Linked DNA regions of Homo sapiens: region 2 is linked to region 1. The links come from fine-mapping of genetic effects on gene expression. Tissue or cell type: whole blood. Region 1 holds a variant in brackets; the other region holds the start of a gene. All regions are shown on one strand. Distances are from middle to middle.

Evidence for each region. PIP is the estimated chance that this variant, and not a neighbour inherited with it, causes the effect.
Region 2: it holds the start of LAPTM5, and the variant in region 1 is fine-mapped to the expression of LAPTM5 in whole blood (TOPMed, PIP above 0.99). The same link has a PIP of 0.9 or more in blood mononuclear cells.

The regions. Positions count from the first base shown.
Region 1 is chr1:30,728,377-30,735,917 of GRCh38, reverse strand. LAPTM5 (lysosomal protein transmembrane 5) reads left to right here. Exons shown (of 8, transcript NM_006762.3): 7 at 653-745; 8 at 2,001-3,449. The coding sequence ends at 2,090. Among named protein-coding and RNA genes, the nearest start is that of MIR4420, 7.1 kb to the left of the region's middle. RefSeq lists enhancers at 2,093-2,594, 2,635-3,140, 3,141-3,646, 5,316-5,425, 5,576-5,705. The variant G/A (reference allele first, on the strand shown) is at 3,370.
Region 2 is chr1:30,753,517-30,761,057 of GRCh38, reverse strand. LAPTM5 (lysosomal protein transmembrane 5) reads left to right here and starts at 3,284. Exons shown (of 8, transcript NM_006762.3): 1 at 3,284-3,399. The coding sequence starts at 3,313. RefSeq lists enhancers at 2,135-2,204, 3,273-3,552, 3,681-4,477, 5,143-5,192, 5,664-6,013.

The sequences.
Region 1 (7,541 bases):
TGCCCCACCTATGTGCCCATCAGGGAATCCATCAAACAAGACCTTCCAGTACAGGACCCTCTCCTCTTACTCAGGGGGCATCCTGGGGGTTTTCTGTTGTTTCTTGAGCTTGCCCCTTGGGATTGTATGCCCCACTCTGGAAAGCTTCTGCCCAATTCTTACATTAACTTGCATCAGCTGATGGACATGTACTAACTGTTCCTCCTTTATAAACATGGACCAATACTGCACATGCTGTTTTGTAATCTGCTTCAGAAAACAACATATCGGAAGCAATTTTGAAGAAAACATGTCCCACCATCAGCTCTGTTTCGAGATGGGCAGGGCTGTCTCAGGAGGTAGTGAGCTTCCAGGCAGTGTGGGCAGTCAAGCAGGAGCTGTGGGACTATTGCCAGGGAAATTGGAGGGTGGGCTAGAAGCCCCCCAAATCCCCTTGCTATGTGGTATCTGTGGGGCAATGAAAAGGGCAATACCTGGAATATTCTGGACTGGCTGGTGAGGAACCCCCAACCAGAATGAGAGGTCCGAGCAGGAGCAGCTGGATGCTGGCTTCTGGAGAGAGTGGTGGCTCCTGCCTGGCATATGTCCTAGGCCTGCTGGAGCGTGAGAAGGACGCTCAGCAAAGCACAGCCTGACCTGGGCCTTTTTCCAGGTCTACATGTTCAAGTGCGTGTGGCGGTGCTACAGATTGATCAAGTGCATGAACTCGGTGGAGGAGAAGAGAAACTCCAAGATGCTCCAGAAGGTGAGTGTGGCTGCAGGTGGGTGCCAGCCCTGTCACTAACTCCCTGTGCCATTTGGGTCAAGTTTCCTTCCCTCTCTGGACCTTGGTTTCTCTATTTGTAAGATGAGGGTTGGAACAGAAGAAATGTGTTCTCTTTCAGTTCTGGTAGTCTAAGATTCATTCACTCACTCATTCATTTATTCAGTATTTACTGCCTCTCACTCTTTGCTAGTCTCATATCGATTCCAGGAGGCGCAGAGAAAACTAAGATGCCACCTCTGCCTTAGAGGAGTGTACAGTTCAGACACATAGATACAATTACAACTTGGTGTGAAGCACAGGGACAATAAGCACAGAGGAAGGACCTGGCCTCTTCTCAGGTATCAGGGAAGCCTTCCTGGAGGAGGTGACAGTTAACTGGTCTTGGAGGGTCAATGGATATGAGATAGCTGGGAAAGCAGAAGGAGGCTTTCCGGGAAGAGAGGATGAGGTGTGCTTAGAAGCAGCTTATTGGAAAGTGACGGTTTAAATTCCTGGTAACTTACTTTCCTCACCTGTAAGGTGGAGATTGTATTAGCTAAGACACTTTTGGTTGCAAGTGGCAGAAACCCAACTCAATCTGACTTCAGGAATTTACTAGCTCACAGAACTTAGCAGCCAAATGTAGGTCTGGCTTGGGCCTGGCTGAGTCCTGACATCAGGATATGATCTCGTCCTCTCCAACTCTTGACTCTACTTTCCTTGATGTTGGCTTCATTTTCCGGAAGCCCATCCCTTGTGGTGGCAAAAAGGCTGCCAAAACCCCTAGGCAGATATCCCACCCTCTCAGAAATCCCAACAGAAAAAGAAGGTCCCAGGAGTATGTCTGATTGGACCAACTTGGGCCACGTGCCTATCCCCAAACCAAGGACTATAGCCAGGGGGATGGAATTCTACTTTGAGTGGCCAAGTCCAGCCACCTCGCTGGATCTGAGGGATGGGACCAGTTCTTCTGAAGGTATATGGACTGAGAATGTTTTCCCAAGGAAAATGGTGCACTGTTTTCAAAATAAGGGGGACTTGATGCTGAATAGGCAAAGGCAAATATGTCCACTACAGGGCTGGGAACTGCACCTATCTCATGCAGGCAATGTCTAGCACATAGCAAATATCCAAGACCTGCCAGTCATTATCATCATCATTTTGCCAGAGGTGGGGGTTTGGGTCCCATGACCCCAGGTTGGAATTGCAGGTCATTCTTGACCATACTCAGCCCTCATCTCTCTGTCTCTCCCAGGTGGTCCTGCCGTCCTACGAGGAAGCCCTGTCTTTGCCATCGAAGACCCCAGAGGGGGGCCCAGCACCACCCCCATACTCAGAGGTGTGACCCTCGCCAGGCCCCAGCCCCAGTGCTGGGAGGGGTGGAGCTGCCTCATAATCTGCTTTTTTGCTTTGGTGGCCCCTGTGGCCTGGGTGGGCCCTCCCGCCCCTCCCTGGCAGGACAATCTGCTTGTGTCTCCCTCGCTGGCCTGCTCCTCCTGCAGGGCCTGTGAGCTGCTCACAACTGGGTCAACGCTTTAGGCTGAGTCACTCCTCGGGTCTCTCCATAATTCAGCCCAACAATGCTTGGTTTATTTCAATCAGCTCTGACACTTGTTTAGACGATTGGCCATTCTAAAGTTGGTGAGTTTGTCAAGCAACTATCGACTTGATCAGTTCAGCCAAGCAACTGACAAATCAAAAACCCACTTGTCAGTTCAGTAAAATAATTTGGTCAAACAACAGTCTATTGCATTGATTTATAAATAGTTGTCAGTTCACATAGCAATTTAATCAAGTAATCATTAATTAGTTACCCCCTATATATAAATATATGTAATCAATTTCTTCAAATAGCTTGCTTACATGATAATCAATTAGCCAACCATGAGTCATTTAGAATAGTGATAAATAGAATACACAGAATAGTGATGAAATTCAATTTAAAAAATCACGTTAGCCTCCAAACCATTTAATTCAAATGAACCCATCAACTGGATGCCAACTCTGGCGAATGTAGGACCTCTGAGTGGCTGTATAATTGTTAATTCAAATGAAATTCATTTAAACAGTTGACAAACTGTCATTCAACAATTAGCTCCAGGAAATAACAGTTATTTCATCATAAAACAGTCCCTTCAAACACACAATTGTTCTGCTGAAGAGTTGTCATCAACAATCCAATGCTCACCTATTCAGTTGCTCTGTGGTCAGTGTGGCTGCATAACAGTGGATTCCATGAAAGGAGTCATTTTAGTGATGAGCTGCCAGTCCATTCCCAGGCCAGGCTGTCGCTGGCCATCCATTCAGTCGATTCAGTCATAGGCGAATCTGTTCTGCCCGAGGCTTGTGGTCAAGCAAAAATTCAGCCCTGAAATCAGGCACATCTGTTCGTTGGACTAAACCCACAGGTTAGTTCAGTCAAAGCAGGCAACCCCCTTGTGGGCACTGACCCTGCCACTGGGGTCATGGCGGTTGTGGCAGCTGGGGAGGTTTGGCCCCAACAGCCCTCCTGTGCCTGCTTCCCTGTGTGTCGGGGTCCTCCAGGGAGCTGACCCAGAGGTGGAGGCCACGGAGGCAGGGTCTCTGGGGACTGTCGGGGGGTACAGAGGGAGAAGGCTCTGCAA[G/A]AGCTCCCTGGCAATACCCCCTTGTGTAATTGCTTTGTGTGCGACAGGGAGGAAGTTTCAATAAAGCAGCAACAAGCTTCTGTCTGGCTGATGTGTTTCTGGAAATACAGTGTAGGGAGGGTGGAGACCAGCCTTCTACCTCCATCACCCCAGGACTCACCCACACCCCCTACACCCACACCCCTCCACACACTCACACCCACCCCCACACACCCACAAATACACCCAAACACCCACACTCCCCCCACATACCCACACACTCACACCCTCCCCACACCCCTCCACACACTCACTCCCACCGCCTACACACCCACACACCCCCCATATACCCACACACTCACACCCCCCACACCCCTCCACACACGCCCACCCCCACACACCCATGTAAACACTCACACATACCTAGTTGCTCCATCCAGAAACTCCTCCCATGGGCCATGCTGAGCGAGGGGTGGTCCTGACCCAATGCTGTCTGATCATGAACCACAGCCCAAGATGATGCACCCTGATGTCTCCCTAATCAGGCGTGCACTCCACTCCCCTGGGGCTGGGTCCTGCTCTGGACACTGGGGAAGACCTCAACAGATGAGACTCGCCTCCAGTTCCCCCCAGTCTGCGGTAGGAGGGACAGATCTGCAAAAGGGCTGCCACGATAGGGAAAGCCTAGGGGACCTCAGACGTGGCCTGAGGGCCAGAGAAAGCCTCTTGGAGGCTGTCACCAAGTGGAGTCTGAAGGATGAGAAGGCAGCAGTAAGCAGAATGGGAAGGGTGCTCTAGGTCTAGGTAGCAGGACACGCAAAGACTCTATGGCATTGGGGAGAGGAGCTGGGGCGAGCTGCTCAGCGTGGCTGCAAGTGGGGAGGGGAGGGAGAAGAGGTCGGCCCGCTGTGGGGCTGGGTCAGGAAGAGTGTTTGCACACAGTGGGGCTCTTTAGGTGCAAGCTCACCCTGGCTAAGTTCAGCCAAGAAGGGAATTTACAGGAAGGACATGGTTGCAAGTAACAGAAGCCTTATGAGCCAAGTTTATTATGAGAAACCAGAAGGTGGTTCACGATGTTTCTTGGCTCTCATACAAATAAAAAATCCAGGGATTTTTGGCTTCAGGTATGGCAGGATCCAGGACTACAACTCTTTAATAATGTCTCTCTGTTTCTCCATCTCTTATCTTTTCTCCCCGGTGTGGCTGAGCTGTTGAGGACTTACCTGAAAGTAAAGTTAATAAAGAGACCAGGGCTGTTTGAATTGGGATCTGTCACCAATACCAAAAGAGCCCTCAGAGCCTTGAATGTCACACCGAGGAACATGGACTAATCCTGAGACAGGTGTCTTTGAAGGATTTTGGGCCAAGGAGTTACAAGGTTTGGGTTTTAGGAAGGAAGAGCCCAAATGCAGGGACCCCTACAAAGGCTGGGGAAGTCATCCTATGGGGCGGCAGGGACGGGGATGAGTTTGAGAGGCATTGTCAACCTTCTGGTGGTGTCAGTTTTTTTGTGGAATGGCAGATTTCTTCATGGATGTTATTTGCTCCTTATCAGACCCCCAAGCAGTTGGTGCAGTGTAATTCACAGAAATGGAAAGCGAGCTCCTGTTCACACTTGAGGGCAGAGGCCCAGAGACATCAAGTGACTTTCCTGAGGCCACACAGTGGTCAGAGATGAGACCAAGCACCTTTTTTTTCTACTCCGAGTGGAGGCTTTTAGACGGGCTGGGGCCCAGTCTGTGTCAGTTGTTGCTTCTTGCAAAGACCCATGGGAAGAGGGCCCGCTGAGAAGCCCCGGCAAGTGTGGATTGGGAGCAGAGGTCACGGGAGGAGAGACATTGGCCCAGCCTTGCATCCTATCACAAGGAGATTGAAGGGCCATGGCTGCGTGTGTCACAAGGACCAGGAGGCCCTGAACTTCCCGGCGCGACTCTCCCGTCCTTCCCGCCTTCCCCGACTCCCACCTCTGGCCTGGAGCCGAAGAACAGGCTGAGCTGTGTAGTGGGATTGTGCCCTGTGGCCAGGCAGCTGGGAGGGGGCCACCCGAGGGACAGGAAATAGCTGGGTTTGGGGAAGTCCGCATGGCTAGCCAAGCCAAGCGAGCCCACGATCGCCTGGGCAGCCCTCACTGAGGCCCTATCAATGCCCCGTTTGAGGCTCACACAGGGGTCCTTTGACGGGGCTGCGATGGTTTGGACCCACTGACAGCGCCTGTTTGAGCTTCATGCCTGGAAAGGAGCCGGCCCCAGGACAGAGGGGGCTGCTTCCAGGCCTGGGCAGGTGAGGGCAGCCTGGAGTGGTTGTCTCTTGGAGGGAAAAAAGAGCTGGTAAAATTAAACCTGGGGTGCTAAGCGGGGCAACTTCAGGTTTCTCGGGAGCTGTGATGGTAGCAGGAAGGGTCCCCGTAATTGAGTGGGCCCTTCAGTGTGCTGGCTCCACAAAGCTCCCAGTGGCCTCACGCAGCAGGTGCTGGGTGGTGATCATTCCTGAGGTTCAGGGAGGGGCTGCCTCTGCCCACAGTCACGCATTGGCCAAGGGGCAGACCTGGGCTTGGACTTCAGTCCACCCAAATGGACCTGAGCTTGTCTCTCTAGACCTTTCTGGGTAACCTCGCCCTTCCTCTGGGAATTTCTACCTCACAAGGCCCTCATTTAATTCCTATTCCAGGCTCTGAGCCCTCTTGGGAGGGCCCTGGCAGAAGCAGGAGGCCTCAGAGGCAGCAGGGAGCTTTTGGATGTTGCGGACCCTCGGATGGTGGTGCCCAGCTCTGAGCAGAGGATGCGAAACGGGGGATGGCAAAGGATGCATCGCGTTTTGGTGGGGCTAGATTTGCGCTTCCTTGGGGGACATATAATGGGAGGTGCTCAGGAAGCAGCTGGGTCTCTAGGTCTGGAGTTTAGGAGAGCGAGGAGGGAGGCAGGTTGAGATGTGAGTGCTATCTTTGGACATGTGGGTGGGATATCAGGTTGGGCTGGTATCACCCAGGTGTTAACCCATCAGAAGGATGTGCTGCTGCTCCGTGGCCTCCCCAGACAGGCCGGCAGATGAAAGCACACGCCTCCTCACCCTGGATTCCAGTTTGGCTGACCATGCGTGGGGCCTGAGACCAAGATAGCACATGGGAGGTGTCATGAACCACATGTGACACCTCAGATCATGGGGTCTGTGGCCCGAATGGGGCCTGGGCAGGAGGAGCAGCCCAGCTGCACTGCAGGCTCCTGGATGGGGCGATGAGCATGGCCACTTTGCAGGTGAGGAATCTGCCCTGTGACTGTGGGCCCCTCCACATCTCTGCCTGACTTTTGGGAAGACCAGAGATTCATGTCCAATCCGGTACTCTGGCAGTGTCTCCAATTTGCAATGAAACCGTTTAAGTGTCAAGAAAAGCAGTCAGGTTAAAGGAAGTCAGGGGCAGGACCCACCCTCGGGTTCTCCTTGGGTCTTTGGGTGGCAGCAGGGCCTCTGCGGAGGGTATAAGCAGCAGCCACTGTGTGTCTCTGCAGCCACAGGCCTTGCCCGCTGCCCTCCCGGATGGGCTCTCTGGGAACCAGTGCTCACATTCCAGTCTGTCTCCCGGGTCCCAGGAAGAAGTCTCCCTAATTAGCCACCAAGAGCACGCCGATGGTCAGTGGGCATAGCAGAGAGCTGCTGGCACGAGGGAGCCACAGTTCTAAATAAATAAACAACATCCACCTGGGAAACAATTTTGCTGCCATCTCAGTGGCCCAGATAGTCGAACAGAACACTCGCCTGCTGCTTCCTCTGCTCTATGTGCTGGGAGGACATGCGAGGCTGGAAAACAGCTGGGCCAAGGCCTGGAGATGTGACCGGGTATCCTGAGAAAAGGACTTGGGTGCAGGTAGCTTATTTGGGAGGTGATCCCAGGAAATACAGTGAGGGGAAGTGAGGTGGGGACAGGATAAAAGCCAATACAATGTGCATGAATAAGCTGGTCACCTCTGTGGGCAACCGCGGCTCACTCCTGCTGGGGACCTTCTGAGGAACGGCGAGGAGCGTGTCTCAGAACTGTTCAATGGGGGATGGGGACGTTGGGGTCTTCTGATCCCTGCAGGTTGCGGGTTATACCTGGGGATGTTAAATCCCCAGGCTGCCTGGCCCACTGCTTGCGTCCCTGGGAACTGCCTGCAGCTGTAGGTGAGCTGAACCCACAGTGGGCTGAAGGGCCATGGGTT
Region 2 (7,541 bases), 25 kb before region 1:
CATTCGTAACGGAAAACAGCAGAATATAAATAGTGAGCTTATGTGGTGTTGCCACCTGCATGTACAGACAACGAGATGGGCATTATCATTATCCCCGCTTGGCGCAGGAGGAAGCGGAGGCTCAGGGAAGTTCACGACTTGGCTGGGGTCACACAGCAAGGAAGTAAGGGCTGCACTTGTGCAGATGGGGACTGTGGTCTCGGTGGAGTGTGTTGGGCTCCAGCGACGGGGCCCCAGGCTCAGCTGTTGCTTCCACTGAGCAGCTGTATTTGTTCCCTGCGGCCGCTATAATAAAAGACCAGAAACACAGTGACTACAACAGACATTTATTGTCTTACAGTTCTGGAGGCCAGAAGTCAGGAATGCGCCTCGCTGAGCTAAAATGAAAGTGATTCCCTTTCGAGCCTCTAGAGGAGAAGCCATTTCCTTGCCTTTTCCAGTTTCTGGATGCCGCCTGCACTCCTTGGCTCATGGTTCTTCCTCCAACTGCAGAGCCAGGAGTGTGGCATCTTCCACTCCCTCTCTGACTCTGATCTTCCTTCACTTATGGGGACCCATTTGATGACCTCAGGGCCATCCAGATAATGCAGGATAATCTCCCCACCCACCTCAAGATCCTGAATTTCATGGCGCCTGTGAAGTTTCTTTGCCATGTAAGGCCATGTACGCACAGGTTCCAGAGATTAGGGTGGATTTTTTTTGGGGGGTGAGAGGCACTATTCTGCCTATCACAGTGGCTTTGGCCAAAGGGTCTGACCTTTGGGATAATAGCCGTCCTCTCCACAGGGGGTTTGTTGGGAATGACAATAAAGTGATTCAGGCTTGTACTCCACAGGGAGTGACTGAGGTGCCTGCCAAGGGGCCAGTGTGTGCTGGAGCCTGGTGACCCGGTGAGAGACAAATGACTGCATCAGAACTCCTGCTTCTGCGAGGGAGGTAGTGCCCGAGGGGACTCAGAATCAGACAGATCAGGGGTTCAATCCCAGCTCTGCCTCCTCCTAGCAGCCTGAGTACGGGTGAGATCGGGGAGCAGGGACGGGCTGGAAGGGAGAAAACAAACAGATGCATTCACGTGACCTCATTTCACCTTCACCGCAGCCCTGCCAGGCAAATTTCTGTTCCCCCCAACCGCCCCGCCGTTTTGCAGAGGTGAAAACAACAGCTCAGAGAGATCAAGTGCCTTGTCTGACACCACACAGCTACTAAGTGGGGAGCTGGGATTCCCCATGCCCCAGGATTCCCAAACGGATGCCACCTACTCCACCTCCAGGGCTGTCTGCCACATCTGCGTCCTCCTAGGCTGTGGCTTCCTTAATATGTTCTTTAAATTGACTTACTGCCTTTTTTATTTAAATGCATTTCTTTTAAAATGAGACTTTATATTACTCCTATAAATGGAAAATCACAGGATTCATGGACTAGTTATGTATATTTTTATAATGCACATTAAAATGAATTTATCACCATAAAAAATGAGAAATGTTTACCCATAGACCATGTACAATTATTCCACATGCTGTCAGTGTGTTTCATCCCTCTCTTTGGGAGTTGGCTTTGCACCTGTCCTGGTTTCACCAAATCACAATGTTATGAATGGCTATCATTTATTATGGTAGGAAATCGTCAAATGGCTTCTGTGCACAATCAAATGCAGACTCCCCAGCATGGCCTCAGGGCCCTCCTGGCCCCTGGTTTCCTGATCTCCAGTTCCTCTGGTCTTGCTACTCTTAGACAAAGGAGGACTTCTCTTGGTTTTCTGCCTACCCAGCCAGAAGATCCCAGGCCATGGGCCTGTGGAGCCAAAGTTCTTAACCACTGCACTGTGTCACCTTTCTATGATGTCAGGCCTCAGCAAGGCTTATGAAGGAACAGGAACAGCCTTGAAAATGAAGTTGGGAAGGGATAGGCCAGGCCTCCCAGGAGCCCAAAGCTTGCAGAGTCCCCTTGGTCTCATTGGCACATGGAGAATGGATTGATCAAGTCCACCAATCAAGTTTTGTGGGTCTAACAGAGCAACTCCTGCCAAGTGGGAGGAGCTTAGGGACTTTCTATAACCTCTCCTGGGGCAGAAATGATGGGCTGCAGCAGTGTCCAATCCTAACTCCATGATCTCCTGGGAGGGCAGGGCTTCATGGCAGTTCCTGTCTGCTCTGCACTAGAAGCTTGGCATTGCAAAGGGGCTCAGCTGTGGAATGAAGCAGGGCTTCTTCCAGAAATGTTGCATGTACTTCCTATTCCCTTTCTTTATTGCAATATGGATAATTTATCATCTGAGGAGGGAGTAGAGATTCCAGGGTAGCTTGCCTAAGAGTTGTGGCTTATTAATTCCAACTTTTTGCAAGATCAAGGGGGAAAAGCAATCCCTGATTTTGTGTGAGTATGGGGATTGGGTCTTGAGGCCCTGAAAGTGAGGTTCGGGTCTCACAGATTGCTGTGAAGAGTTATTGACCCACCTAGAAGAGAAGCCTAGCCCAGGGCCTGGCGCACAGTTGATGGGTTTGCTTCCTGGTTATTCTTCCGTCCTTGTCTGGAGCCCTGCACGCCTCTTCGTAGCTTAGGAAGAACAAGCTTCTCCCTGCGGCTCAGGGTGAGGAAGTGGGAGAGAACACCAGCTCCAGGGAGGCTTCTAGCACCAGTCAGCCTCAGTTAAAATCCTTGCACCTTCATTGACTAGCTGTGTGACCTTGCACGAATCATTCCCCCTCTCTGTGCCTCAGTTTCTTCATCTGTAAAATGGGGATCATAATAGTACCTCTCTCAAAGGATTGAGGTGAGGATGAAAGGAGTGAATCCAGGAGCATGCCTGGAAGAGGCAGGAAATGCCTCCTAGACAATAGCTATTTTTGCAGCCAGACAGATCTGGGTTTGAATTCTGCCACCAGTGCTAACTACTGTGTGATTTGGGGCAAGTGCCTTGACCTCTCTGGACAGCTGTTTCCTCATCTGGAAATGGGCTTGGTAACAGTCCTGGCTTCCAAAGTTGGTAGTGTTCTTCTAGTAAGCAAGCTGTGTGAAACGGTGGAACCCTGGCCCTGGTGCAGAGAAGGGCATGATGACCGTGTTAGGGTCTGTCCTCTCTGGAACCCCCTCCTGGGAATGGCAGAGGGCAGTGGGGTGCTCTGAGGCAGGCTGCTGCCCTGTCCCCACTCCCCCTCCCCAGCTGCCCCGCCCCAGCTGTGACGACCTTGTCCCTGCCTGTCTAAGGGGCAGGAAGGAAGTGAGGAGGGCAGCCAGCAGCTTCCCCTTCTCTGCCCTGCTCCAGGCACCAGGCTCTTTCCCCTTCAGTGTCTCAGAGGAGGGGACGGCAGCACCATGGACCCCCGCTTGTCCACTGTCCGCCAGACCTGCTGCTGCTTCAATGTCCGCATCGCAACCACCGCCCTGGCCATCTACCATGTGGTGAGTGTGCGGGCCCCGGGTGTGTGTGCGTGCGTGCTTGTGTGAGTGTGAATGTCTGCGGTGACCCGTCATCTACGGAGCCCCACAAATGAAAGAACTCCTGCTCTCCACCTCTCTGGGGGACCCTGGGCAAATCCCTGTCCTGCTCTGGGCCTCAGTTTCCTTCTCTGTCAAATGGCTGGGGGTACCCTGGGGAGATGCCGCAAGAGTGAGGAGTAAGGGAGCTGGAATCCACTTTCCAGGCAAATGTAACTGACGTTCACTCCGAGGCTGGCTCCGTTTCTGCCTCTGTGAGATGGGGCACAGCAGCAGCCGGAAGGTTATTTGTGTGCAAAGCCAACAGCAGATGTGAAAGTGCTTTGGAAGGCAGGGATCTTGGGAGGAACGTGGGCTGGGATTGTTTGACCGGGATGTGAGGTCGGCCGCAGACACAGCCCCGATTCTTCCCCTGGGGCCTGGAGGGAGCCTGGGCCACTCGAGGGGATGAGAAGTGGGGATCTCCCCTTTGTGCCTCCAGTGGGGAGGCAGGGGCCGTGTCCTCTCAGCTTCCAGCTCAGTCAAACCACGGCCTTCTGCCCACCAAAGAGAACTTGAGACCTGTGCTAATCATTAGGGTAACTTGTCCGGCCCAAGCTCTTGTTGGGCAACTTGTGAAGTCACGGCTGTCACTGGTTCCTCCTTTCCTGGTGACTCACAGTGTGGTCTTGGGCAAGTCACAGTGCCCGGGGGCCAAGGCTGCCCCTCTGCCTGGGGTGGCTGAGGGTCAGTGTCCTTGTACTGTCCTGCCTAGACCCACCCTACTCCCAAACTCCTGGCCACACTCATCTCCCCTAGACCCAAGCGACTTCCTCCTGGGGTGACTCAGGGCCTGTGGTTAACAGTTTTCTCATGAGTCTGGAAGGGCTTCCTCAAAATTAGCCTAGATCCACATGCTGCGGTGGGTTGCTGCAAACTCAGACCTGCCTGCGTCTGCTTCCTGTCACAGGCAGGGCAGGCAGAGCTGTGGCAAGAGCCCAGCCTTCAGGGGGGCGATGCTGTTCAGTGGTTAGCCCACGGCCTCTGGATGCAGACTCCTGCATGCAAATCCTGGCTTCCCTGCTTCCCAGCTCTGCAGCCTTGGGCAATTTACTTAACCTCTCTGAGCCTCAGTTTTCTCATTTAAAAAAATGGGGATGTGAATTATCATACCCATCTGATAGGGTTTGTTGTGAGGCTCAGGGAGTTGATACATACAAAGCATGCAGAACCACGCCTGACGCACAGGTGAGTGCTTTATTATTCGTTGTGCATCAGACATGGCACCTGCTGTCAGCATCCTTGGAGTCAAGTTGTCAGATTCAAGGACTCTAGTTTTGGGAGGAGGAACTCAGAGGTTGTCCTTCCGAGCTCCTGCCAATGCAAGAGCTGAGAGAAGCAAATCACTCTTTGAGTGTCCCTGTACCCTGTATTTTAGGCCTTCAAGCTCTGAGACTATGCACATTCTTAGAAGGACAGTGTGGCATGCAGGGGCGCCTCACAGGTAGCAAGTCCCTGGGTCCTCACCCCAGCCCTGCCACTAACTGGCTGTATGGGCTCAGACAAGCCTCTCTCTGGGCCTCAGTTTCCCTTTTATAAAGTCAGGGGTAAGGTGATGTTGACTGGCTCAGAGGTCTCCAACTCTGATGCCTCTAGGGTCTGGGCAGGCCATGTGAGTGACAGCAGGGGGCAGATGGGGCCTGCGGTGACCCCGGGAGCCCTTGCTTGGCCCACCCTGCAGCTGTTCTCTGTTTTTGCTTGTTGTTGCCACGAAGGATTGTGGGCCCTGGTGGCCGCTCTTCTGATGTTTAGAGAATAGGGAGCAGGCTTTTGTGTCACATCTTCTGATGTTTCAATGCTAGTGATTGATGCATGGTAGAAAAAAATCTCAGTGCAGGCCAAGTCAAATCCATTTGCAGGTTGTGTGGGCCCAGAGGCTGCCCTGCAAACCCGGGACTGTGGGGCTGTTAAGGTTTCTTGTTGATCGTGCCATCCGATGTCCTCACCTGTAAATGGTGGTGTGATATACGGTCCCTGCTCACAGAGCTGAAGAATGTGTGGGCCCTAGCAATCATGGAAGACTTCTTGGAGGTGGTGCCATTGGCAGGAGGGAGAGTTTGGTTGTGGGCAGTATGGAAGGTGAGGAGAAACAGGTGAGCAATGGCGTATGTGTTCGGCTTCTACAGGGACACAATAGAGACAAACCTGGAGTTTGGGGAGGAGGTGATAAAGGTTTTGAGTGACAAGCTAAGAAGTTGGATCTTCTCTGCAGTGCACCATTGATATTTTGGGCTGGATAATTCTTCATCTTGGGGGAGTGAATTGTGCGTTAGAGGAAGTTCAGCAGCATCCATGGTCTCTACCTACTAGATACTAGCAGCACTGCCCATCTCCCTACCCTGCCACTTGTGATAACCAAAAATGTCTCTAGTTATGGGGCCCAATCTCTCCCAGTTGAGAACCAATGCCTATGAGTGATGAGACGTTCTAGAGCAGGAGCAAGCAAAAGAGCAGAGGGGTGTCCTGGAAGCTGTGCGCTCGGCCCAGGTTGTCTCCAGGCTGTGGTCCTCAGTTGACTCCAGTGGGGGGTTATCTTCCTGCACCCCGAAAGAGTCCTCTCTCCTTCCCAGAAAGGGCAGGGCCTGGGGGCTTTCCCATAGGCTAGCTGGCAACAGGTGTGCTGATAGGACCTTGAGCATCTGGATGGAAAAAGAGAAGCTGTGGTCCAGATGTGTCAATAGCCCATGCTGGCTGTCATCTGGACCCAGCCATGGGTGACGACTCTGCACATCATGAGCTATTTGTGGACTTGGCCCCTCTAGGGAGGGTTAAATTGAGACCTTGCCATCCTGAGACAGTGCCACGCTCTATTGAGTCATGAGGGCGTTATTACATGAGGGAAGCCTGGTCCGTAGCTTTGGGCTCGGGCATCTTCCTCAGGATGTCAGTGGGTTTGTGTAGAGGATTCTCTGGGTCACCCAAACTTGCACACTTTGGGAACCCAGCAAACTTTCTTTCTTTTTTTAAAAAATCTATTCTTTTTTTCAAAGTTCAGTAACTTGCCCATCTTTTGTGGTTTGATTTGTTTTGTTTTGTTTTTGTTTTTAAGAGATGGGGTCTTGCTCTGTCACCCAGGCTGGAATGCAGTGGTGCCATCACAGCTCACTGCAGCCTTGAACTCCTGGGTTCAAGAGATCCTCCCACCTCAGCTTCCTGAGTAGCTAGGATCACAGGCGCATGCCACCATGGCCAGCTAATTTTAAATATTTTTTTTTGTAGAGACAGGGTCCCACTATGTTGCCCAGGCTGGTCTCAAACCCTTGGCCTCAAGTGATTCTCCTGCCTTGGCCTCCCAACGCGCTGGGATTACAGGCATGAGCCACCGAGCCCAGTCTAGAGAAATTTCTTAAATTGGGTCTCTTGGGTCCTGGCTTTTTGTCAACCTGAAGCACGTTCTAAGTCGATGGTAGAAAGTGGACACCCCCAGAAGACACTTTTGCCCAGAAATCTCTTTCTTCCTGACCCCTCTTCCCCAGAGTGCCCGGAATTCCACTGTCAGAAATGCATTGTCTGGGTTAAAAAACTTAACACCTGCTATGATTTCAACAGTGTCAAAACAGGATACGTCAAAACTGGGCGAGGAGGAAATGTATTTGGGTTCTAGGATAGTGAAAGCTCTATTTTTTCTACTTTTCTGTATTTTCCATATTTGGTACAATGAGCACGTACTTAGAACGGTTTTAGATTTACGAAAATATTGCAAACACAGTACAGATAGTTCTTGCGTCCCCCATGCCTAGTTCCTCTATTGCTAACGTCTCAACGTTAGTGTGGTGCGTTTGTTGCAATGGGTGAATGAATATTCGTGGGCTGTTATTAAAGTCAGTGCTTCACCCCTATTTCCCCAGCTTTCCTCTTACATCCTTTTTCTGTTCCAAGATTGCATCCAGGATGCCGCGTTACATTTAGTCTTCACACTTCCTTAGGTTCCTCTTGGTATGATGGTTTCTCAGATTTTTCTTGTTTTTGATAATCTTGACAGTTCGAGGAGTATTTGTCAGGCATTTTGTCAAATGTTCTTCAACTGGGGTCTCTGGTGGTTTTCTCATGATTAGTCTGGGAATGTG